4 linked regions of the Homo sapiens genome follow. Each later gene encodes a partner of the first gene's protein in a complex. Each region holds a gene or a part of one and is shown on either strand. Other genes may lie near its edges. The genes, in order: EIF4E2, EIF4EBP1, GIGYF2 and TARS1.

Region 1 (7,518 bases):
ACATTTAAGGCAAATCTTACAAGCTACTCTTCCCAGCTTCAAGCTGGATTTGAGTCAAGATACAACTCAGACTGAAAAATCAGTGCTCCCTAAACTCAGGCAGTTAGCAACTCTGAGACTGTCCAGACTGAGAGGCACTTTAGTTAGCTTGCTAAGCTTCTGCCCACGTATTTCCTCACCCTCTGAACTAGACCAATACCTTGTGGGCAGGACCTTGGTTCAATTCATCTTTATACCCTCACCATCAGACAGTGGCATAAAAAAAAATCTCCGTTTAATGAATGGGTCTATAGAATCAAAGCAATGAGTGCCAAATAAGTGGTTTAGACAATAGTTAGGAATGGGCCCAAAGTTAACGATATAGAATAAAAAGCAAATGATGTAGAATACGGACAAAATCAAGTACAGTTGTGTAGATCTGAAAACTATGTTTAAGTCAGGACTGCAGTTTTTGTGAAAGCATCTTACGGTTTTACGTTATCAATAGGATCAATGGCAATGAGATCTAAGGACTTGATAGGTCTACCCCTTCTCCACAAAAGCAATTACAATCAAAGGTTTCATTCAGAGAAGTTGAGTCCATACAGTAACGGAGATTAGAGCTAATCTTTAATATGAGCCCATTAGATTATATACTACTGTACTCAGCTCCAGCCACTGGACATCTGGAAGGATTCTGGCAAACTGGAACATGTCCTTAAGAGCAATGTGGTAAAAAGTGCAGATTACTAGAGAGAGCAATGTGGTAAAGACTCCAAATATGCAGCAATGGCCTAAACACCGCAGAATTTCTGAATGAAAAACAACATAAAAAAATAAAACTAGGGGCAGGAGTGCTGTTTTCAACTGCTAATTTCAAATGAAAGAAAGCTTGTTTTTCTTTTTTTTTCCTGCAATGCTAGAGGGCAGATGTTAAAAGATTCTGGCTCAATACAATAGTTAATAATTCAAAGTAATTAAAATGACCCAGGTTCTTCAATCGTAGAAGAGGTAAGAAAAAAAAAGAGGGCAAGTTTAATTTTTCTCAAGAGGTGCTTGAACCAAGGTTACACAACAAACCTGGGATAGCCCTTCCTTTGTGTCGGGAATTAGTTAACCTCAGAGTCTCACTTTCCTCATCTGTAAAAGGAGACAACAAGATCCCCTTCACAGAATTGTTAGAGTAGAAATAACATATGAGGCTGGGGGTGGTGGCTCATGCCTGTAATCCCAGCACTTTAGGAGGCAAGGTGGGTGGATCTCTTGAGCCCGAGTTCGAGATCGGCCTGGGCAACATGGCGAAACCCCGTCTCTACAAAAAATACAAAAAAATTAGCAAGGTAGGGTGGCACATGCCTGTAGTCCGGCTACTCTGGAGGCTGAGATGGGAGGATTGCTGGTGCCCGGGAGGTTGAGTGGGCAGTGAGCTGTGATGACACCACTGCACTCCAGCCAGGGTGACACAGCGAGACCCTGTCTCAAAAAATATATATATATATGAAAAATACCTAGCAAGATCCCTGTGGAAGTCCATTATTACCATTCTTACTGCAGACTCCCAAATGATTTGGGTAGGCTTGAGCTAGATGACCCATAAGATGTCTTCTTAGGATGACATTTGATTTGTTCAAATCAGTGGAGGAAGGGGTATAAGGGTTCCAGAAAGCTCCACTGAGGCAGGATTTGGATCTGGAGCTAGTTGTTGCAGGGTTTACAATAGAGATGAAATGGGGCGGCAGCGGGGGAGAGGTTCGTAGAGGGACAGGCTCAGTTAAACAGCAGGATAGAGAAGAGGTCGGGCAAAGACTTTCTCAAGTAGCAGAGACCTCTCAGCAACCAGAAAACATTCCTGAGGACCTACCTGCCTGGAGTGTTGGAAATCCAGTATTCCCTGAATTTGCACAGTACTCTCTGTATTGGAAACACCCCAATTTCCCATCAAAAGCACCAGGTCACAACCTAAACTAATAGTAATTCCACTTTACGTTTATATCGCAATAGTTAGCAATGTTCACAAGCATCTTTAAGCATCGCTGAGTGTGATCTGACCCTTATCACACCCCGGCGTGGCAGCAGGGTCCTAGCCACTAATGTGGTTTGAGCAACAATGGCTTAGAGGCTGGGTAACTTTTCTACAGTCAAACAGATGGTAAGTGGTGAATCTGGGACTAGAAATCCAGGTTTTCGGATGAAGAGACAGTCGATTTACTAGACTACTAGAAGAGAGGAAGGAACATATTCTACCTCAAGATACAATCCTTGGAGGGGGATAAGTAAAGATACTTCTGCATTTTCTCTCTGTACCTCCAAACTGTTTGATGCTGAAACTAGAAACCGGAGCGGGCAGGAGAGGGCAACAAGTATACTTAGGTCTTGGCGAGTGTGTTGGAAGACGGGAACGGGAAGGGGAGGAGAAAGAAAGTAGGAAGAGTCTCAGGAAGATAATTCCTAAGCCAGCCTTCCACCGCGTCGAGGGCAGCAACCACATTACCTCATTGCATCCTCCAAACTCTACGACAAAGGGTGTTACCGTCCCCACTCTGCAGATGAGAAAACTGAGGCTCAGAGGGGAGAGGGAGTGTGTGGGGAAAGCTGGATTCAGAGGCAGCGCTGCCAGACTGCGGAAACACCCAAACCGCCGAGGTCCCCACCCCTCCACGTCGCAGGCAATCCGCATCCACCAGGGCGGGGCGTCCGAAAATCTCCCCCTACCGGGCGGCACAGCCACCCCTCCCCCGGGCCCAGCTCTTCGCCCTCGGTTCGGACGGCCCTGGGGTCTCCGGGACTCCGGTATCCATTGCTCCCCAGCCCCCTCCTCCCCGCCAGTCCAGGCCAGGTCCGGCCGCAGCCGGATCCCAGCAGGGAAGCCGGTGCCGCAGGGTTTGCGCCGCCCCAGCCCCAGCGGGGGCGGGCGCGGGGGAACTGTTCGGGGAAGGGGCCCCGGGGGCGGCCACGAGCCACTCACGCGTCGAACTTGTTGTTCATCCTCTCGCCGCCGCTGTCGCCACTGCCTCAGGGAGTGACTTCCGCTCCACCGGGTCCCTCAGCCTTGGGCCCGGGTACTTCCGGTTTTGCGCGGGGCGCAGCGGAACGTCGGCGCGCAGGCCCGGTTTGGAAGCGGCTATCTCGGGACGCCAGCTCAGGGCGGCTGCGCAGAGGGCTGGACTCAGCGGCGGAGCTGGCTGCTGGCCTCAGTTCTGCCTCTGTCCAGGTCCTTGTGACCCGCCCGCTCTCCTAAGGGAGCGTGTCCTGGCCCCCTCCCGCAGCGGCTCGGAAAAAAGGCAGCACCGCGTCGTTGACGGCGCGGGCTCTGGACTCGCTGCTTGGTAAAAACCTTCCTCTTCCTCCAGTGCGGGACGCACTCTCTGGTATCTCTTTTGACCTCCCGGAGGCTTTCCTTTGTCGGTCGCGGCGCCACTGTACTATGGCATACCTCGTTTTATTACGCTTCGCAGATAGGGCATTCTGAAAACAAATGGAGGGTTTGTGGCAGCCCTGAGTCCAGCAATTGTATCAGCGCCATTTTTCCAACAGCATGTGCTCACTTGGTGTCTCTGTGTTACATTTTGGTAATTCTCAAAATATTTAAAACTTTTTCATGATTTCTGTGTCTGTTATGGTGATCTATGATCAGTGATCTTTGATGTTGCTATTGTCATTGTTTTGGGGTGCCACATACAGCGTCTTTTATAAGACGTGGAACTTAATGTTGTGTGTGTTCTGACCGCTCCACCCACAGACCGTTCCCCATCTCTCTCCCTCTTCTTGGGCCTCCCTATTCCCTGAGACACAACAATATTGAGATTAGGCGAATTAATGACTCTGCAATGGCCTCTAAGTGCTCAAGTGAAAGGAAGAGTCGCACATCTCTCACTTTAAATCAAAAACTAGAAATGATTAAACTGAGTGAGGAAGGTATGTCAAAAGCCGAGATAGGCCGAAGGCTAGGCCTCCTGCGGCAAACAGTTAGCCAAGTTGTAAATGCAAAGGAAAAGTTCTTGAAGGAAGTTAAAAGTGCTACTCCAATGAACACACGAATGATAAGAAAGCGAAACAGCCTTATTGCTGATATGGAGAAGGTTTTAGTGGTCTGGATAGAAGATCAGACCAGCCGCAACATTCCCTTAAGCCAAAGCCTAATCCAGAACAAAGCCCTAACTCTCTTCAACTCTATGAAAGCTGAGAGAGGTGTGGAAGCTGCAGAAGAAAAGTTTGAAGCTAGCAGAGGTTGGTTCATGAGGTTTAAGGAAAGAAGCCATTTCCATAACATAAAAGCACAAGGTGAAGCAGCAAGTGCTGATGTAGAAGCTGCAGCAAGTTATCCAGAAGCTTTAGCTAAGATCATTGACGAAGGTGGCTACACTAAACAACAGATTTTCAATGTAGATGAAACAGCCTTCTATTGGAAGAAGATGCCATCTAGAACTTTCATAGCTAGAGAGGAGAAGTCAGTGCCTGGCTTCAAAGCTTCAAAGGACAGGCTGACTCTCTTGTTAGGGGCTAATGCAGCTGGTGACTTTAAGTTGAAGCCAATGCTTATTTACCATTCTGAAAATCCTAGGGCCCTTAAGAATTATACTAAATCTACTCTACCCGTGCTATATAAATGGAACAGCAAAGCCCGGATGACAGCACATCTGTTTACAGCGTGGTTTACTGAATATTTTAAACCCACTGTTGAGACCTACTGCTCAGAAAAGAAGATTCCTTTCAAAATATTACTGCTCATTGACAATGCCCCTAGTCATCCAAGAGCTCTGATGGAGATATACGAGGAGATTAATGTTATTTTCATGCCTGCTAACACAACATCCATTCTGCAGCCCATGGATCAAGGGGTAATTTCGACCTTCAAGTCTTATTATTTGAGAAATACATTTCATAAGGCTCTAGCTGCCATGGATAGTGATGTCTCTGATGGATCTGGGCAAAGCAAATTGAAAACCTTCTGGAAAGGATTCACCATTTTAGATGCCATTAAAAACATTCGTGATTCATGGGAGGAGGTCAAATTGTCAACATTAACAGGAGTTTGGAAGAAGTTGATTCCCACCCTCATTGATGACTATGAGGGGTTCAAGACTTCAGTGGAGGAAGTAAGTGCAGATGTGGTGGAAATAGCAAAAGAACTAGAATTAGAAGTAGAGCCTGAAGATGTAACTGAATTGCTGCAATCTCATGATAAAACTTTAACAGATGAGGAGTTGTTTCTTATGGATGCGCAAAGAAAGTGGTTTCTTGAGATGGAATCTACACCTGGTGAAGATGCTGTGAACATTGTTGAAATGACAACAAAGGATTTAGAATATTACATAAACTTAGTTGATAAAGCAGCAGCAGGGTTTGAGAGGATTGACTCCAATTTTGAAAGAAGCTCTACTGTGGGCAAAATGCTATCAAACAGCATCGCATGCTACAGAGAAATCTTTCATGAAAGGAAGAGTCAACTCATGCGAAAAGCTTCACCGATGTCTTATTTTAGGAAATTGCCACAGCCACCCCAACCTTCAGCAGCCACCACCCTGACCAGTCAGCAACCATCAACCTCGAGGCAAGACCCTCCACCAGCAAAAAGAGTACGACTCACCGAAGGCTCAGATTGATAATCAGCATTTTTTAGCAATAAAGTATTTTTAAATTTAGGTATGTATATTGTTTTATTAGACAATGCTATTGCACTCTTGCTGGTCTACAGTATAGTGTAAACATAACTTTTATATGCATTGGGAAACCAAAAACATTCATGTGACTTGCTTTCTTGTGTTGGTCTGGAACTGAACCTGCAATGTCTTTGAGGTATGCCTCGACCTACCTCCTTAGGTTGCTGTATGGATCCCATGAGACAGTAACTTATAGTAATGGCAGCTAATGTTAACATTTGAGTGTTTATTGTGTACAAGGAGCTAATCCTCTGCCCTCTGAGGCTTTCAGAGAGGTTGAGAGACTTGTGCCAGATACACAACTAGTAAGGGGCTGGTGGGAACCGGAAATGGCCCCACTGTCATCAGATTCCCTCCCTGATTGAAGTTCTCCCCCACTCTCCCTAACTCCTCTAGTTCTCTATAGCTCTGACTCTGCTCTTGCTTCAAACACACTGTGCATGCACAGACACAGACTCACACTGGAGTAAATAATACGAACTTGCTGGTGATTGAATCCCAAAGACAGCAATCCTGTGCTTGGAGGGAGGGCATATTTCCAAGGTCCCCTCCTGCCAGCATATCCTGTCGTCAGGCCTTTATGTGGCACTTTCACTTTTCTTTTTTCAGTTTTGTAATTTTTTTATTTTTTTTGAGACAGGGTCTTACTGTGTCATCAGGCTGGAGTGCAGTCACATGATCACAGCTCACTGCAGCCTAGACCTCCTGGGCTCAAGCGATCCTCCCACCTCAGCCTCCCGAGTAACTGGGACTACAGGCATGCATCACCACGCCCAGCTAAGTTTTGTATTTTTTGGTAGAGGCCGGGTGTCCCCATGTTGCCCAGGCTGGGTTCCTGGGTTCGTGGGCTCCTGAGCTCAAGCAGTCCACCCACCTTGTCCTCCCAAGGTGCTGGGATTGCAGGTGTGAGCCACCACACCTGGCCAGGAATGGATTATTTTTTGCACCTTATTTACAGATGAGGGAACAGCCTCAGGGAGCATAGGTGACTTGCCCAAGGGTGTCCCCTGGTTACCAGCCAAACTCGTGTGCCGGCTGTAATCTCAGAGCAGGACCTTGCCTCTCCCCCAGGAAGACCCCAGCCTTACTACCTGATTAGTGGGGTCAAGGGAGGCCAGTCAAAGTCTCCTCCTGGAATGAAGAGCTCAGTGGCTCTCTGTTAACTCCACACCTCCTCTTGCCTAGCTCTTCCTTGTCTTAACCATCCTTTGGGAAGAAGGGCCTGTTTTTCAGGCCGTAGAATCTTAGAGTGTCAGATTGGGTCAGAGTCAGGAATTCTGGACTTCAAACCTTGTTTAACCACCACTGTTGTGTGGAGTCCCGCTTACTCTAGGCTCAATTTGCCTATATAACATGGGGAATAATGACTCTTGCTTATCCATACTGCTGTGAGGAGCTCTTAATTAAAAAGGAGGCCAGGTACAGTGGCTTATGCCTGTAATCCCAAGACTCAAGTGGGAGGATCACTTGAGCTCAGGAGTTCAAGACCAACCTAGGCAACATAGCAAAACCTCATCTCTACTAAAAATTTAAAAGTAGCTGGGTGTAGTGGTGCATGCCTGTGGTGCCAGCTACTTGGGAGGCTGAGGCAGGAGCATTGCTTGAGCCCTGGAGGTTGAGGCTGCAGTGAGCCATGATCATGCCACTCCACTCCAACTTGCATGACAAGAGTGAGGCTCTATCTCAAAACTAAACAAAACAACAACAACACATCAAAAACTAAAAAAAAAAAAAAAAAAAAGAGGATTACAAAACTCAGGAAATCGTCTTGTGGTCAGTGGCAGAAAAATGCACATGAATGGAAAGGCCACTGGGGCTGTTGAGAATTGGGTGCTTATTGTACCCAGAAGGCACGGGGGGGAGATGCCAGCTGGTATGG
Region 2 (7,032 bases), on another chromosome or scaffold:
AGAACCCAACGAACCCAAAAGATGGAGAACAATAACAAATCGCTGCTGTTTAGTTACTGTTTGGGGATGGCTTGTTATATAGCAATAGCTAACTGATACAACCATTTTCACCAAGTGTCCCTGCACACCTAAGAAGCCCTGATCCTCTGGGCCTAGTATCTGAGCTCTCTTAATGAGCTTTCATGGGCATAACCATCAGATTACATGGAGCCCTTTGCTGTGCATACCCAAATGTCAGTGAGCAGCAGTTACTTACTCTTGCCTTGTCAGCAATGCTGGATGCAAACAGGTAAATAAACAGCATCAGTCACAGTGTCTGAGACCCCGGCCCCAATACTGGCTTGTTCAGTGTAAGAAAAAGTTGCCAGATGCAGTGGCTCACATCTGTAATCCCAATGCTTTGGGAGGTTGAGGCAGGAGGATTGCCTGAGGCCAGGAGTTCAAGACCAGCCTGGGCAACATAGACCTCATCTCTACAAAAAATAAAAATTAGCCAGGTGTGGTAGCATGTGCCTGTGGTCCCAGCTACTCGGGAAGCTGAGGCAGGAAGATTGCTTGAGCCCAGGAGCTCAAAGTTACAGTGAGTGGTGATCGCGCCACTGTACTTCAGCCCATAGACACTCCAGCCTGGGCCACAGAGGTGAGGCCCTATCTGTTAAAAGTTTTTTGTTTTTGCTTTTTAAAAAAAAGAAAAAAAGTCACATCCACTCCCTGTTCGGTAATATTGGGACAAGAAATACCAGCAATACTGTTTAATACAAATGTTCCTTGACTTAAAATGAAGTATGTCCCAATAAATCCACCATACATAGAAAATATCTTAAGTCAAAAATGCATTTAGGGCCAGGTGCAGTGGCTCACGCCTGTAATTCCAGCACTTTGGGAGGCTGAGGCGGGCAGATCACTTGAGGTCAGGAGTTTGAGACCAGCCTGGCCAACATGGTGAAACCCCATCTCTACTAAAAATACAAATTAGCTGGGTGTGGTGGCACACGCCTATAATCCCAGCTACTCAAGAGGCTGAGGCAGGAGAATGGCTTGAACCTGGGAGGCAGAGGCTGTAGTGAGCAGAGATTGCACCACTGCACTCCAGCCTGGGCGATAGAGCAACACTCCAACTCAAAAAAAAAAAAAAAAAAAAAGTATTTAGTACACCTAACCTACTGAACATTATAGCTTAGCCTTCCCTACCTTAAATGTGCTCAGAACACTTACATTAGCCTACAGTTGGACAAAACCACCTGGCAACACAGCACACTATAGACTCTATAGTGGGCTGTCCAATCTTCTGGCTTCCCTGGGCCACACTGGAAGAAGAATTGTCTTGGACTACACATAAAATACACTAACACTGGCTGGGTGTGGTGGCTCACGCCTGTAATCCCAACACTTTGGGAGGACGAGGTGGGCGGATCACCTGAGCTTGGGAGTTCGAGACCAGCCTGACCAATATAGAGAAACACCATTTCTACTAAAAATACAAAATTAGCTGGGTGTGGTTGCGCGTGCCTGTAATCCCAGCTACTCAGGAGGCTGAGGCAGGAGAATCACTTGAACCTGGGAGGCAGAGGTTGCAGTGAGCCGAGATTGTGCCATTGCACTCCAGCTGAGCTTAAAAAAAAAAAAAAAAGAAAGAAATTTCATAATGTTTTAAGGAAGTTTACGGACTTGTATTGGGCCTCATTCAAAGCTGTCCAGAGTGCATGTGGCCTGAGGGTCTCGGGTTGGACAAGCTTGTGACTGGCCATTTGTCCTCATGTTTGTGGGGCTAAATGGGAGCTGCAGCTCACTGTCCCTGCTGAGCATCTCGAGAGCATGTACCTCGTATCGCTGGCCCAGAAACAGATCAAAATTCACAATTCAATGTACAATTTCTAGGCTGGGCGTGGTGGCGCACACCTGTAATCCCAGCTACTTGAGAGACTGAGGTGGGAGGATTGCTTGAGCCTGAGAGGCGGAGGTTGCAGTGAGCCGATATCATGCCAATGCACTCTAATGTAGGTAATAGAACAAGACTCTGCCTTTTTTTTTTTTTTTGAGATGGAGTCTTGCTCTGTCTCCCAGGCTGGAGTGCAGTGGCGTGATCTCGGCTCACTGCAACCTCTGTCTCCCGGGTTCAAGCGATTCTTCTGCCTCAGCCTCCTGAGTAGCTGGGAGTACAGGTGTGTGCCACCACACCTGGCTAATTTTTTGTACTTTTAGTAGAGACGGGGTTTCACCATGTTAGCCAGGATGGTCTCTATCTCTTGACCTCGTGATCCACCCACCTCAGCCTCCCAAAGTGCTGGGATTACAGGCATGAGCCACCGTGTCCGGCCAAGAATCTGTCTTAAAACAATTTTTAAAAGTACAATTCCTACTGAACACATATCACTTTCATACCATCGTAAAGTCAAAAATTGTAGTCACACCATCATAATCGGGGACTATCTGTATGAGGATAAGTAGGAGGGTTCAGAGAAGGTTATTCTCTGGCTGGTCCAGTGGCTCACGCCTGTAATCCCAGTGTTTTGGGAGGCTGAGGTGGTGGATCTCTTGAGCCCAGGAGTTCCAGACCAGCCTGGGCAACATGACAAAACTCTGTCACTACTAAAAATTTAAAGATTAGCCAGGCGTGGTGGTGTGTGCCTGTAGTCCCAGCTACTGGAGAGGCTGAGGCAAAAGGATCACCTGAGCTCAGGGGGTTGAGACTGCAGTGAGGCATGATCGTGCCACTGTACTCCAACCTGCAACAGAGTAAGACTTTGTCTCAAAAAACAAACAAACAAAAAACAGACAACATCATCAAAACAGAGAAAGTTAGTTTCTGCCCCTGGGACATTCTGAGATAAACACTTATACCCTGCAACTGAAAGGACAGAAAAGGAAATTTAAACGTCATCATTAAGCCAGCGGAGACTCAGGCCTGACAGTAAGAAAACTAGGTTATCCTGACCAGGCATGGTAGCTCACGCCTGTAATCCCAGCATTTTGGGAGGTCGAGGCGGGTGGATCACAAGGTCAGGAGATTGAGACCATCCTGGCCAACATGGTAAACCCCGTCTCTACTAAAAATACAAAAATTAGCTGGGTGTGGTGGTGCGTGCCTGTAATCCCAGCTACTCAGGAGGCGAGGCAGGAGAGTCACTTGAACCAGGGAGGTGGAGGTTGCAGTGAGCTGAGATCATGCCACTGCACTCCAGCCTGGGCGACAGAGCAAGACTCAGTCTCAAAAATAAATAAATAAATAAAATAAGAAAACTAGGTTATCCTGAGGGGAACGCTTTCATTCCAGCATTCTTTTCAACTCTTCACCTTCCAGACACTAGACCTGGCATTAGGTCATGTGGATACAAAGATGAGTAAGACTGCTCAGAAAAAATTTCCTGGCTAACCTAGGGAACAAACACGTAAACAAAAACGTGTGATTCATTCGCTATGAATCATAATGGAGAGAGACCCCAGGCATGGGTCTAAGTCAGACCAGAAAGAAACAGGTTTTTCATGGGTTTGTTGGCACAGGCAAGAATCTATGTGCACAACTGAACATTTTTTTTTTTTAAAACTCACCTTAGAAAGCAATGTTCCTTTTTTTCAATATTGCTGTGCCTTCCCAGGCCAAGCACAGTGGAGCATGCCTCTAATCCCAGAACTTTGGGAGGTCAAGGCGGGTGGATTACTTGAGCTCAGGAGTTTGAGGCCAGCCTGGGCAACATGGCGAAACCTCATCTCTACCAAAAAATACAAAAATTAGCCGGTTGTGGTGGTGCATGCCTGTAGTCCCAGCTACTTGGGAGGCTGAGATGGGAGGATTGCTTGAGCCCAGGAGGTTGAGGCTGCAACTGCACTCCAGCCTGGGTGACAAAGTGAGACCCTGTTTCAAATTAAAAAAAAAAGAAGAAACAATATTGCTGTGCCTTCCTAACTCATCTTCCAGAACATGAAAATAAAGGTCTATATGAGAAAATGCCTCGCTACTTTATGTCAATGGATAAATATGGTATTGCTCTGCTGACCCTTTTTCCTCAGATTTGGCAATGAAGGACTTTTTTGGTCTTTTAGGAAGCAAAAAAATCAAACTCTCTCTCTTTTTTCTTTGAGACGGAGTTTCACTCTTGTCACCCAGAATCGTTCGAGTGAGTCTCGTGCCTCAGCCTCCTGTGTAGCTGGGATTACAGGCGCCTGCCACCAGGCCCGGCTAATTTTTTTTTGTATTTTTATTAGAGATGGGGTTTCACCATGTTGGCCAAGCTGGTCTTGAACTCCTGACCTCAGGTGATCTGCTTAGCCTCCCAAAGTGCTGGGATTACAGGTGTGAGCCATCGCACCTGGCCTCTCCTTTCAAATAATAAAAAACTAGAGGGTCAGACTCAGAAGCAAAGCATGACCCTGTCTCTACAAAAATAAATAGCCGGGTTTGTGGTCCCAGCTACTCGGGAGGCCGAGGCAGGAGAATTGCTTGAACTCAGGAGGCGGATGCTGCAGTGAGCTGAGACGGTGCCACTGCACTCCAGCCTGGGTGACAGAATGAGACTCTGCCTCAAAAATAAAATAAAATAGGCCGGGCGCGGTGACTCATGGCTGTAATGTCAGCACTTTGGGAGGCTGAGGCGGGCGGATCACGAGGTCAGGAGTTCGAGACCAGCCTGGCCAACGTGGTGAAACCCCATCTCTACTAAAAATACAAAAAATTAGCCAGGCGTGGTAGCGCGCCTGTAAACCCAGCTATTCGGGAGGCTGAGGCAGGAGAATTGCTTGAACCCAGGAGGTGGAGGTTGCAGTGAGCCGAGATCGCACCATTGCACTCCAGCCTGGGCGACAGAGCAAGGCTCCATCTTGAGGAAAATAATAATAAATAAATAAATAAATAAATAATTAGCTGGGCATGGTGGTGCGTGCCTGTCATCCCAGCTACCCGGGATTCTCCTGTCTCAGCCTGAACCTGGCAGGTGGAGGCTGCAGTGAGCTGAAATCATGCCACTGCACTCTAGCCTGGGCGACAGAGTTAGACTGCCTCAAAAATAAAATAAAATAAAATAAAATAATAAGGCCGGGTGTGGTGGCTCATGCCTGTAATCCCAGCACTTTGGGAAGCTGAGGCGGGTGGATCACCTGAGGTCAGGAGTTTGAGACCAGCCTGACTAACATGGTGAAACCCTGTCTCTAATAAAAATACAAAAATTAGCCGGGTGTGGTGGCACATGCCTGTAATCCCAGCTACTTGGGAGGCTGAGGCAGGAGAATCACTTGAACCCAGGAGGCGTAGGTTGCAGTGTGCCAAGATTGCACCACTGCACTCCAGCCTGGGCAACAAGAGCGAAACTCTGTCTCAAAATAATAATAATAATAAAAAGGAGTCTGGGGATTGGAGGGATTTTGGAGTGCTCTACACCAGGAACCCCCCACCAAATCTTTAATAAGGGACACAGTGTGGAATGCTTCCAACACTTTAAAAAATTTTATTTATTTAATTTATACCGACAGAGTCTCACTATGTTGCTCAGGCTGGTCTTGAACTCCTGGCCTCAAGTAATTTTCCTGTCTCAGCCTTCCTAATAGCTGGGATTACAGGAGTGAGCCACCGCACCCAGCTCCTTCAAACACTTTAAAAGGAAGCTCAGGTAAATGTGAGAAGAGGGTCCATCGTTTCTCCCTCACTGCATTAATGTCCAAGCTCTTTTAACCCATCCTTAATAATTTCTTCCCTCCATGTGACTAAGGCCTCAGGACATGGGCTGTGCTCTGGCTTTGGTGCCCAGCCTACATCCCCTTCTTCCCAGCACTGCCTGTTTCATGTCCAAAGACTTGGGAGCTGCTCCAAGGTAAGCTTCCTGGGCACAGACCTTGTTTGCTTAACCAAACAGGGTGCCATTAACACCTGCAGCCCTACCTGCTCACCTCGGATTCACCTTATCCAGGTACGGGTCTTTGGCACAACTGCCATCCAAGCCTGTATATAGGCTTCAGAGTCAAACATGCAACACGGAGCTGGGAATGTGGAGATTGATGAGGGAAAGTTTCTTTCTGACCCACTCAAAGGTTCTGCTGGCTAATGAGCTGTTTATGGTGTCGCTGGATATTTTTAAGACTCCACAGACTCAAATATTCATACATGACACTCCCTTCGGCAATTAAATTATCTTAAGTACTCTGGACAGCTAACCTCAGAGCAGAGCCTCAGTGTGCAAATGGTTAATGACCATGGAAAGCAAACTGGAGGCCAGGTGAGGTGACTCATGCCTACAATCCCAGCAGTTTGGGAGGCTGAGGTGGGAGGACTGCTTGAGCCCAGGAGTTTGAGGCCAGCCTGGGTAATACATAGAGACCCTGCCTCTACAAAAAAATAAAAAAATTAGCAGGGCATGGTGGCACGTGCCTATAGTCCCAGCTACTTGCAAGGCTGAGGCAGGAGGATCACTTGAGCCCAGGAGTTTGAGACTGCAGTGAGCTATGTTTGTGCCACTGTACTCCAGCCTGGGTGACACCATGAGACCCTGTCTCAGGAAAAAAACAAAAAAAGGGCCGGGTGCAGTGGCTCACGCCTGTAATCCCAGTACTTTGGGAGGCCAATGCAGGCGGATCACGAGGTCAGGAGATCGAGACCATCCTGGCTAACACGGTGAAACCCTGTCTCTACTAAAAACACAAAAAATCAGCCGGGCTTGATCGCGGGCGCCTGTAGTCCCAGCTACTTGGGAGGCTGAGGCAAGAGAATGGCGTGAACCCGGGAGGCGGAGCTTGCAGTGAGCCAAGATCTCACCATTGCACTCCAGCTTGGGCGACAAAGCGAAACTCCATCTCAAAAAAAAAAAAAAAAAAAAAGGAAAGCAAACTGGAGTCATAGGAATGGAGATAGTGCAACCCAACTGCTGCTTCTTTCCCTCCAGGGACAATCACTTGAGGGCCATTCCCAGCAGGAGTGACTGGGGGGTACTTACTCCAATGGTTTTTCCTGAGAAGCTGACAGTCCCTATAAGTAAGCAGGTGCAGACAGCCATGCAGACACTCTATCAAAAGCCTGGCTCTCCACACCACGATTTAGAGATCAAAGTT
Region 3 (7,032 bases), 290 kb from region 1:
GAACTGCAAAACGGGAGGGGAGAAGATAAGGGTAACAATGAAATAATGAAAGAGAACTTACAAAAATCAGTTTCCATTTTTAATGTATCTTTATACCTAATCAAACATTAATGACAGACACTTGGTAAGTATGCAGCAATTGTGTTTAAATATTCTTTTATCTACCCTATAGAAATGAAAAAAACACTATAATCACAACATCCATACCACATGTTTAATTTCACTGAATGTTATACTGACTGAAACAGTTACTTGACTAAGGCTGAAGTAATTTGGGGATTCATTCTTTCCTTAAGAACCCTCAAATTCAATCAGTATTTATTAACTCCTATGATATGTGTCAGGCACTACAACATACACTAAAGAAAACAGCTATATCTTCCTGGAACTTTCAATCCACTGAGATTTTTTAGAGAGAAATCAAATGGAAAATGTAAGCAGTGTGTGGTATAGGAGAAAAGCATGAGTATCAGAGTTAGACAAACATGGGTTTAAAACCTGACTCTGAAATTTGCTGGCTGTGTGACCTTGATGAGTTATTTAACCATTCTGAGCCTCTGTTTCCTAATTTATAAAATGGGGATAATATCACCTATCTTGTAAAGGTATCTTTAAAAATCACTGCTAATCAAATAACTGGGATGCTGCATGTTAACTCCAAGAGAGTGCCTAGCACACATGGTAGGTGCTTAATGCATGGCAGCCATTACTGTTATTTAAAATTGTTTTCTCTGTAGGCTTTTAAACCATTAGATATTGTTACACTGCTGCAAAGGAACTCTTTAATTCCTTTACTGCTATTTTTCACAGTTTCTTGGCTTTAGACAGGGTATCAGAGGTGGATTAATTCAATTCAGCCTATTAGTTAGGGGAATCCTGACATGTTGACCAGTCTCTCTTCAAATATTCAGGGATGGGAGACAGTTCTGTTTGTAAACAGCTAACCATGAGCAAGTTTTTCTCTAAACTGTGCCAAAGCCTTTTCACTTCTGCACATTGGTCCTAGTTTTATCTTACACAAAATAAGTGTACTTGCTTTATCACAATTCCCATTCCCTCCCCCAAAGGTAGAAAGGGAATGATGTCACATCACTTCAGCCATCACTTGTCCAGGTTGACCTTTGTCCCCAGCATGAGAGTTACTTTTTTTAACTTGACATAGCTGGCAATGTTCCCCATAAAATGAACAGTATGGAACTAAGACCTCCTCTGTCCTGTGTATCATTAAGGCAGTCTAAGATGGCATTTACTTTTTGACAACCACCAATAATCTATTTGAGTTTAGTATTACTGGACTTTTCTCACAAGTAATACTATTAAAGAGTCAAGTTCCTATGGCAGGTGCAGCAGTTGACCTCCTTAGATTTCATCTTTTGACTTTTGGCCCACTGTTCAAATTTGCCAGCCTCTCTGTGGGTCCTGCTCTGTCATTCCACATGCCGGGTTTCCCTCCCCAATTCTTACCATCCAAGTTATTTGCCGTATTAAGGGCATGAAGCATCTGTTCACACCACTGCGTAAATCCATCTTGGGCTTTATTTACTCCCTGAAAGAGCTTCAGCAACTTTTCTTCTTCTTCTACTTTCTTATTCTGCCGGTTAGACACACCTACAGATTTACTAAAGCAAAACAATAGGGTGATATTATATTCCCAGAAACTGTTACTATATGATTATAGTACAACACCATAAATAATGTCTTGGCAATACTGGATGGATGCCCAGTAAATAATCCAATGCTTGGCTCCAAAAAAGAAAAAAATTCAAATATTTGGATTGGATATACCCTTAAAATCTAGCCTCAGTTAATATATCCTAATTTGTGGATACAGGGGTTCTACTTAGAAAAAATGATGAAATTCTTCCTACGTGTCCTTAGGTAAGTTGTTTAATTTTACTAAGCCTCAGTCTCCTCATCTGTAAAACGGTACTAACAACTTTTTTGGGTTATCATAAGTAATAAAGATGTTCTATGAAAAGGCCTACAGCACAGTGCCTGGCAAAGATGCTCAATAAACTAACAGAAATTTATTGTTCTATTCATAATATGTTAGGCCCTAAATCAAGAAGAAACAATCTGACAACACTACCATTTATTAAGTAGTTACTATGTGCCAGGCACTTACTACTTATCATGTATTCATTTAATCTTTACAATTACATGCATAAAGTTGTTATTATTATCTTCATTTTACCGATGAGGGAACTGAGGCCCAAAGAGGTTCCCTCTTGCCCAAGGTCACACAGCTAATAAGTGGTAGTGCTGGGATTTGAGTTCATGTATTTAACACTAAAACCCATGCTCGTTCAACAACACTGTATATTGAAGAAAGAAAGATGAAGATGAAAATGTAACTAACTTATAAAAATAAATAGGTTTAAGGTCATTACAGAGGTATTTTATAATACTCATATTAATAGCATAAATTACTTAAAAATACAAATATAGGAAAAATGCTAAGGTATCTAGAGAATACCTTGGAGAAATGTTCAACAACACAACAAAAACATTATACTATTCCTAATATTTATTAAGTGGTTACCATGTGCTAGGCGATAGAATAAGTGCTCAGCAGGAGCCCCAAGAAATAATACGAATGTGTTTCTATGGGGAAGAAAGCAATCACCATAATTATGACTGCATGTGCTTGAACACAGATGAAAACGGTAAGCAAAAACTCAATAACTACCTTTTCCTGCCCACCCAACATCCCACTTCCTCCATCCCCACCTCCCAACCAACCAAGGTGCATAGGTGTGGTCATTTTGAGCCCTACCTGAGACTGGCGTTGTTTTTATTTTTATTTGTTGAATTCCTAGGTCCCACCTCTTTCACTGCATCATCCCAGAATCCCATGTTGGAGTTTTTAGTGTCAGCATTACTCCAAATACTACTGACTAGGTCAGATGCCCACTGGTTAGGAGGACCAGTATTTATAGAGCCCCAAACAGAATTCCCAATGCTGGTGTGCAGGTTGGAATGCTGTTAAAGAAAAAGAGAAAAATGATTATCGTGAATCATGTTAAAAAGATAAGAAGACAGTCAGAAAAGATAATACTAGTCCATACAACGACAGCTTAGGAAAATGCACACACCGTATTGTTACGAGCTCTGTTTGGTTGCTGGTGTTGCTGCTGCTGCTGCTGCTGCTTTTGCATTTGCCTGGCCTCTTCCTGCTGGATCTCCAGAAGAGATTTCGTGGTACCTGAAGGTTTGCTGACATTCCCCCAACCTGAGAGTTTCTGCTGTTGCTGTTGCTGCTGCTGCTGAAGAGCTTTCATCAACTCCCTCTGCTGGCGCCTTTGCTGTTGCATAAAAACAGAAGCTAGCTGAGGATTCCTGTTTTTAGATAATAGTTATAAATATCCAGTATACTAAATGGAATGTAAATACACAGTAGCTACATAAAATTAACTTGATGGGATTAAATTCTGCTGTTGCAAATAAAAATGTAAATCGCTAACAGTATTAAAAAGGAGAATAAAAACATGAAATGCAAAATTACTTCTTTTTTTATTGTTGTTGAGACTGTGTCTCACTCTTCCGCCCAGGCTGGAGTGCAGTGGCACACTCTCAGCCCACTGGAACCTCCGCCTCCCAGGTTCAAGCCACAATGCCCGGTTAATTTTTTGTATTTTTAGTAGAGATGGGATTTCACCATATTGGCCGGGCTGGTCTCGAACTCCTGGCCTCAAGCGATCTGCCCACCTCGGCTTCCCAAAGTGCTGGGATTACAGGCATGAGCCACAGTGCCCGGCCTCAGAATTACTTTTTTTTTTTTTTTTTTTGAGACAGGGTCTCGCTCTGTCGCCCAGACTGGAGTGCAATGGCACGATCTCAGCTCACTGCAACCTCCGCCTCCCGGGTTCAAGTAATTCTCCTGCCTCGGCCTCCTGAGTAGCTGGGATTACAGGCGCCTGCCACCACACCACGCCTGGCTAATTTTTGTATTTTTAGTAGAGACGGGGTTTCACCATGTTGGTCAGGCTGGCCTTGAACTCCTGACCTTGTAATCCACCCGCCTCAGCCTCCCAAAGTGCTAGGATTACAGGAGTGAGCCACCGAGCCTGGCCAGAATTACTTCTTAAAAATTAAGTAGGCTTTTGGTTAAGCACAGAAATAAAACACATGTTTACTTCCTAAAGCCCCCACCAAAATGACAGATTATACACACACACACACACACACACACACACACACACACACACACACACACAGCATAAACACATGAGGACAAAGAAAACAGAATAGATTTTTTAAAATCTGAAAAGCAGATAAATAATGAGAACCAATGTAACAGACCTAATAAATTGAAATCTAAGTAAAGGAGCTCAGAAACAGGCAGATTCACAAAGAAGGCTCAGGAACTGGAGGTGCTGAGTCTCTCAAACAGAGGAAGACTGGTTGAAAGGCTGTAAAAAGAAGCAGTAAGACTCCAGATTGCCTCCCGCACTCTGTGCAGTTAGGCAATTCACTCTCCCTCACCACAGCAGAAAACCGAACATTCCCTGTCTGAAGAAGCCAAATCAGACTGGCACATTATCCTGTGGGGAAGCCAACCAGCTTGACAAGAGAACACACCTATAAGTAGGTACCAACAAATTGGAGTGGGGGTGGGGGTGGAGGTCCCCAACAGAACAACCCAGCCAGAATCTATTATAGGAAAGCCCATCAAGGTGCTGTACATACCAGAACCTCCAATCAGCTTCTGAGTGCCTTATTTGTAAATAGGAACAAACAGCCCAGAATTACCAAACATTTGACATAAACTTCTAACATAAAAGCCAAAGACCAAAACAAAAATAATTCAGCAGAAATAGAAATAAGAGAACGGCAAAATAGGAGTTGGCTTTTTAAGAAGCTATCAGTAAGTAATATCCTTAGAGAGGTAAGATGGTGCATTTAATGAAACAATAAAAGGCTATAAAAAATACTTAAAGAACAAAATAAGGACTCACAGATGTTTGATATAGCATATATTAAAAGCTCAACAGGGCCAGGTGTGGTAGCTCATGCCTGTAATACCCAACATTTTGGGAAGCCTAGGCAGGAGAATCACTTGAGCTCAGGAGTTCAAGGTTACAGTGAGTTACCATCACACCACTGCACTCCAGCCTGGGTGACAGAGCAAGACCCTGTCTCTAACAGGAGAAGCCCAATAGAAGGACTGCAGGTAAAACTGAGAAAATGCCCCATAGAAAAGATAAAAAGGGTAGGGCGTGGTGGCCCATGCCTATAATCCCAACACTTTGGGAGGCCAAGGTGGGAAGATCGCTTGAGCTCAGGAGTTTGAGGGCAGCCCAGGTAATGCAGTGACACCCGTCTCAAAAAAAAAAAAATTTTTTTTTAAATTAGCCAGGCATGGTGGCACACACCTGTAGTCCTAGCTACATTCCAGCCCAGGAGACACAGCAAGATCTTATCAAAAAAGATAAAAGCACAGAGATGGAAAACAGGAGAAAAAACATGAGAAAATCAAAATCAGTCCTGGGAGAAACATGTAAATAACAGGAACTCAAGAAAAACAAAACAGCAGCTATAAAGCAAGCTGAGAGTGTCCTGATTGGAACAGGTTAGAGGCCCCCAGAAAGGATGCCTCCAGGGATGATAATGAAATAAAATCATCTTGGGTTTTTCTACGTAAGAAATATGTGAAATGTGTATTAAGAGGCACCCTTATAAAGGGTACAGGGAGACTTAAAAGTTCCAAGAAAATTAAATGAAAATACAAATGAAGGCAGGGCACGGTGGCTCATGTCTGTTATTCCAGCACTTTGGGAGGCCGAGGCGGGTGGATCACTTGAGGTCAGGAGTTTGAAACCAGCCTGGCCAACATGGTGAAACTCCGTCTCTACTAAAAATACTTAAAAAAAAAAAAAAAAAAAAAAATAGCTGGTGGTGGTGGCAAGTGCCTGTAATCCCAGCTACTCGGGAGGCTGAGGCAGGAGAATCACTTGAACTCAGGAGGTGGAGGCTGCAGTGAGCCGAGATCGCGCCACTGCACTCCTGCCTGGGTGACAGAGCGAGCCTCAGTCTCTAAAAGAAAAAAAAGAAAAAGAAAACACGAATGAAATAATTATTAACTTCTGGTAGACAGGAGAAGACCTGTGATTCCTTGTCATTACCACTATTATTATCTTCTCATTCAGTAGGGACCAAAATTAGTGGAATAATTTCTAGCTTTGAAGGGAGAGACATACTCTGTTCTGCATCCATTTGTTGATAACCTTTTAGAGAAAGATGATTCCAGAGAAAGTTCAATTCTTTTTTTTTTTTTTCTTAAATAAAGGTGGGAAATAAGGTCATCTTCAAGTGTGAAGAAACATCTTATCTTACTGGATGACTTCAAGCACACTACCTGGTAAACACATATAGACAATTTCTATTTCTCCTTGTGTATCCAAAGCCCTCCTAATTTCAGTGAACCACATGACCCAGATCCAAAAATGACAACTTACATTCTCTAACAAATTGACTGCTCTACCTCAAATCATATCCACATAAAGCATCTTCAAGACTCTGCTATATTATGTCACCTTTTCAGAGGCCTTCTCAGAACACACTACCTAAATTTGGACAATCCACCACACCATCATTATCCCTGACTCCCAACACTCTCCCTACCCACCTTCCCTTGTTACCTCTCTGACACTTATCAACCTCTCATACGCTTCATTTTCTACTTTTCTCTTCTCAATCAGAGGGTCAGCTTCATGAATGCAGAAAATCTTGCCTGTTTTAGACTCAGCTATATCCCCAGACCTTAAGTGAGTAGGTACTCAGTAAACATGTGTTGAATGAATGAATGAATGAATGAATGAATGAGCACCGAATGGCATACTGAACCAAACTATGAAAATTATTCATTTTCTCCTCTCTGTCAAAAGCTGTGTTATTCCCCTTCCCTTTTATACTCTTTTGTATCCTTCCTACCCTAATGATGAACTACAGGATATACACTTAAAAGCAGAGGTACTTTATTTCTGTCACATTTTTCTAGACTAGTCAGGGAACCCAGTGTCTTTAGAGAAA
Region 4 (3,654 bases), on another chromosome or scaffold:
AAATTAAAAAAAAGATGTTACTTTTAAAATATCATTCTAACAAGGAGGAATTAGTATTTATCCACATAAGAAATTATTTACTTTGTGCTGTCCTTTCAATCACCATTTATTGGTAGAAGATTTTGAAAATGATCCCTTATGAGAAAATAGGGAATTTGTAAACCAAGTGATTCTATGGTCCAGAACAGTCTGCCATAAACAGATATTTCTCTGAAGATTCACGTTTTATCTTAAACATTTGTGCAAATCTACTCTGTAATAGATCCATGGTAGTTTTTGTTTGAAAAGGTGTCCATCCAACATTAAGTAAAAATGACACTCCCAAAAGTGTTTATCCTCTGAGAAGCCAGCACCCAGCTCACACCCAGTTTATGAATAGCATTATGATGCTGCAGACCTACCCCGTCTCCATCCACCCTGCATTATATTTGCTGTAAAACTGTAAAGATAAATACTGAACCACATTATCTGTCTCAGGCATGTATGTGTACATGTGAGGGACAGAGCAGTCTTGAAACTTATGTGAATAAATTTTTTTTTTATTTTTACACCATAATCCAATTCTAGTTATCTTAATTGAATTTGAAAACTTTTTCAATTGCATTAAATTTACAAAAAAGTTCTCCCACATTACACTAAAGCATTCCTCATGTTTCACTTCCAGTACTCAGATACTGAATGAGTAAAATCATTTTATTGGCTCTCTTTTAATTAACTCCTTCAAATGCACATTGTTTAAAAACTGACTAGGTCAAAAATAGTTACGCCTGCAGGTTGACCTATTCAGACTTTGCCAAACTCCTCCAAGTTCAATATAAATTGACGTTTTCAGAGTACAAAGTCAATTTTACGGAAACGCTGTTCCTCCTTTTCCATGGAGCCAATCTGGGTAATTTTTTCATTAAAATTCTTCTTCTGCCTGTTTGCTGCGGAACTCTTTGAGCTGCTGTAGCCGCTCGATAGTTTCAGAAATGGTGCGTTCCCCGTGGACCTTATTGTCTCTTGTGCGGATATTAACAGTGCCACTGATTTTCTCTTTTTCACCAACAACTAAAACAAACACACAAAGCTTTGTCAGACTTAATCTAAAGATATGGAAGAATTCACACTGAACATCTGAAAAGAAATGATCCTAGGACCCAAAACCTACCCCATAGCTTCTGATACATTAAAAGGTACAAGTGACCATGTGTTGATATTTAAAAGAAACTCTTTGCAATATCTAAAACTACTGTGCTTATGGAGTCAATCTAGACAACGTAACAACCAAATAATAAAACCCCAAACATCATGAATATCTTTTTTCAAGTAATCCCACATAAGGCATTATCTTGAGAAAGTAATCCAATAGATGTGTTTAAAAGCAATGCGTCTTCATTCTTGTTATAATAGCAAAATATTTTCTCACAGACATCCATGATTTAAGTGAAAAAAAAAAAAACCCAGTATGTATGCATGAGCCTATTTTTATAGTTATTATATATTAAAATATATAATAGAAAAAAAATCAGGACTGGAAGGAACTAAATAAATTCTTGATTACAATTCACTTAAACCTGTCTCAAGGTTTCAGTAGATTTTCCTGAGGTGTGGCAAATTTTCTTTGGTAAGTTTCCATTCTTACCTAAAATGAAGTTATACTGTGCTAACTGTGCATTTCGAATCTTTTTATTCAATGTACAGCCTGGATCCAGATCAATGTCTGCCATGAATTTGGCATCGTGGAATTGTTGTCGTACCTATTGTAACAGAGATACAGAATTTGTCAGATCTAAAATCAGAATTATATTTTGATCTCACATGATTTTACTGAACACAGGGATCAGGACTTCTTGGATGAACTTCCAGGAATTTAAAGCTGGCAAAACTGTCTTAGATAATATTATTCACTGCCATTATTCCCCCCTCAAAAAGGCCAGCTCCTCTTTATTACCTCAGGTCATGTGTATTAAGTAAACAATGTTTTCAGTATTCTTTTCCAAAAAAGCAATAAACTAGATTACAATTTATTAATTTTACATTAACTAGATTAAACTTCCCATTAACCTGATAACATATTAACATGACAAAAAGACCTAAATGAACAATTTTATTTCACTATCATTTCATATGAACCTCAGATTACAGATGTGAAAAATATCACACGATCAACACCTGAAAGAAATGATCTTCAACTGAATAAATCTTAACTTCTGAGTATCAGAAAGTTTTTTTTTTTAATCAGGTTATCAGAGGCATTAGTCCCTTAACTTTAAAATAGAATAATATTTAATAGTCTAAAAGTAATTTAGATTAGAACAAATTAACAATGAGTATAAAAAATGTTTCTGTTCAGCCTGCTATGAGAGTTGGGCATTTTACATTCAAATCACCCCACACGTGGCAGAAAACTGTTTCCTTACAGTGGCCATTAACCCAAAGGAAGAACAGGAAAGTTGGAGGACGCTGGTGTTCCTTCCTCATCTCTGCCATAGAGACAGTACCATTGGGCTTTCACGCAAAGCCATGTGAGCAGTGACGGCCTATCCTCTTTTTGTAGACGCAGAAGTTACACTGTCTACTAGCAGAATCACCATCACAATTCCACCCAGACCTCTTAGAAGGGTCAGAGTTTCTGGAAATCCTGGTCAGAAAGCAGAATGAATTTTTCCAGGAAAACATCTTAAGTACAGCTGAAGGTGAAATAGTAACTATCATACTCTACTTAAGTATCATGAGTAAAACCAGCAATCTCTGGTTGACCTGGGTGACGAAATATTTCTTTCAATTTTTGATTGAAAAAGATTCTAAATGATCTACAACACATTCATTTCTCAAATGCGAGTTATGTGTAAACCAAGGGTTATTTATGTATGTCAAATGTTTATTTCTATAAGGCATACTTTTTGAAACAATCTAAGTGACTTTGCCTATACTGTGCACAAGTCTTAGCATTTTAACTAGATTTTTAAGCCACAGTGATCACGAACCAATTAACCTGTTGACATTTTATTACACCCATTTCAGAAGGGTTGTTACAGAATTTTAGAATGCCAAGATAGGTCTACATCTTCAACTTATAACTACTTTAAAGAATAAGGCATCAGTTTCTTCATTTTTCTCAACATGGGTCCTGTGTGTGCACGTGAGATGGGCAATTCTGCAGTTGGGGAAGTGGCCTGATAATTACAGGGTGTTTAACATGTCTGCTCTATAGTTATTAGGTATCAGGAGTACTGCCCTGTCTTCTCTCCCCGCAAAAGAAAAGCTTACCACCACATAATCTGGAATGCCACCTACCCGCAAAGGGAAATGGGGAAGTCAGTGCTGTCTCCAGTTGAGAACTCAGTTAACCAATACAGAACTTCTTCCTACTGTGTGAGTTTTCACATACAAATAAGACAAAGTGCACTCAACCATGGAACATAACTTTGATTGTCATCATTTGTAACTAAAACTACTGAGTGCAGTAACAGGAATAGTCTGAATGGTTTATCTATTAGATGGTTTAGTGTTCACTTCATTTTTTTTATTTATTTATTTGTTTTTATTTATTTATTTTTTTGAGATGGAGTCTTGCTCTGTCACCCAGGCTGGAGTGCAGTGGCATGATCTTGGCTCACTGCAAGCTCCGCCTCCTGGGTTCATTCCATTCTCCTGCCTCAGCCTCCTGAG

Evidence for each region.
Region 2: the proteins of EIF4E2 (region 1) and EIF4EBP1 are in contact, whole or in part, in a crystal structure (PDB 5NVN), measured with the Homo sapiens proteins. Residues at the interface, in NP_004837.1 of Homo sapiens: Glu53, His54, Pro55, Leu56, Gln57, Tyr58, Tyr64, Arg66, Lys83, Gln84, Ile85, Gly86, Val91, Glu92, Gln93, Trp95, Arg96, Phe97, Ser99, His100, Met101, Val102, Leu107, Phe113, Glu149, Asn150, Leu153, Gly157, Glu158, Gln159; in NP_004086.1 of Homo sapiens: Arg51, Ile52, Ile53, Tyr54, Asp55, Arg56, Phe58, Leu59, Met60, Cys62, Arg63, Ser65, Val67, Thr68, Lys69, Thr70, Pro71, Pro72, Asp74, Leu75, Pro76, Ile78, Pro79, Gly80, Val81, Thr82, Ser83.
Region 3: the proteins of EIF4E2 (region 1) and GIGYF2 are in contact, whole or in part, in a crystal structure (PDB 5NVM), measured with the Homo sapiens proteins. Residues at the interface, in NP_004837.1 of Homo sapiens: His54, Pro55, Leu56, Gln57, Tyr64, Arg66, Asn81, Lys83, Gln84, Ile85, Gly86, Thr87, Val91, Glu92, Phe94, Trp95, Arg96, Phe97, Ser99, His100, Met101, Val102, Leu107, Phe113, Glu149, Asn150, Leu153, Leu156, Gly157, Glu158; in NP_001096616.1 of Homo sapiens: Leu38, Ala39, Asp40, Tyr41, Arg42, Tyr43, Gly44, Arg45, Met48, Leu49, Leu51, Phe52, Leu53, Asn56, Lys57, Ile58, Pro59, Asp61, Leu62, Asp64, Glu66, Phe67, Pro69, Ile70, Leu71, Gln72.
Region 4: the proteins of EIF4E2 (region 1) and TARS1 are in contact, whole or in part, in a crystal structure (PDB 5XLN), measured with the Homo sapiens proteins. Residues at the interface, in NP_004837.1 of Homo sapiens: His54, Pro55, Leu56, Gln57, Val91, Glu92, Phe94, Trp95, Arg96, Glu149, Asn150, Leu153, Leu156, Gly157, Glu158, Gln159, Met161, Val203; in NP_001245366.1 of Homo sapiens: Pro51, Glu52, Tyr53, Ile54, Tyr55, Thr56, Arg57, Met60, Tyr61, Ile63, Leu64, Glu67.

Annotation. Positions count from the first base shown.
Region 1 is NC_000002.12:232,546,171-232,553,688, reverse strand, and holds the start of EIF4E2 (eukaryotic translation initiation factor 4E type 2), read right to left. Parts: upstream 3,001-7,518; 5' UTR 2,965-3,000; coding exon 2,945-2,964; intron 2,623-2,944; exon of another isoform or gene 2,476-2,622; coding exon of another isoform or gene 2,471-2,475; intron 1-2,470. Other genes in the region: TIGD1 (tigger transposable element-derived protein 1), read left to right, coding at 3,807-5,582. UniProt on the Homo sapiens protein: Recognizes and binds the 7-methylguanosine-containing mRNA cap during an early step in the initiation. Acts as a repressor of translation initiation.
Region 2 is NC_000008.11:38,033,513-38,040,544, reverse strand, and holds part of EIF4EBP1 (eukaryotic translation initiation factor 4E-binding protein 1), read right to left. Parts: intron 1-7,032. UniProt on the Homo sapiens protein: Repressor of translation initiation that regulates EIF4E activity by preventing its assembly into the eIF4F complex: hypophosphorylated form competes with EIF4G1/EIF4G3 and strongly binds to EIF4E, leading to repress translation.
Region 3 is NC_000002.12:232,840,319-232,847,350, reverse strand, and holds part of GIGYF2 (GRB10-interacting GYF protein 2), read right to left. Parts: intron 3,306-7,032; coding exon 3,096-3,305; intron 2,983-3,095; coding exon 2,777-2,982; intron 1,620-2,776; coding exon 1,465-1,619; intron 4-1,464; coding exon 1-3. UniProt on the Homo sapiens protein: Key component of the 4EHP-GYF2 complex, a multiprotein complex that acts as a repressor of translation initiation. In the 4EHP-GYF2 complex, acts as a factor that bridges EIF4E2 to ZFP36/TTP, linking translation repression with mRNA decay.
Region 4 is NC_000005.10:33,464,956-33,468,609, reverse strand, and holds the end of TARS1 (threonine--tRNA ligase 1, cytoplasmic), read right to left. Parts: intron 1,740-3,654; coding exon 1,625-1,739; intron 1,051-1,624; coding exon 902-1,050; 3' UTR 524-901; downstream 1-523. UniProt on the Homo sapiens protein: Catalyzes the attachment of threonine to tRNA(Thr) in a two-step reaction: threonine is first activated by ATP to form Thr-AMP and then transferred to the acceptor end of tRNA(Thr).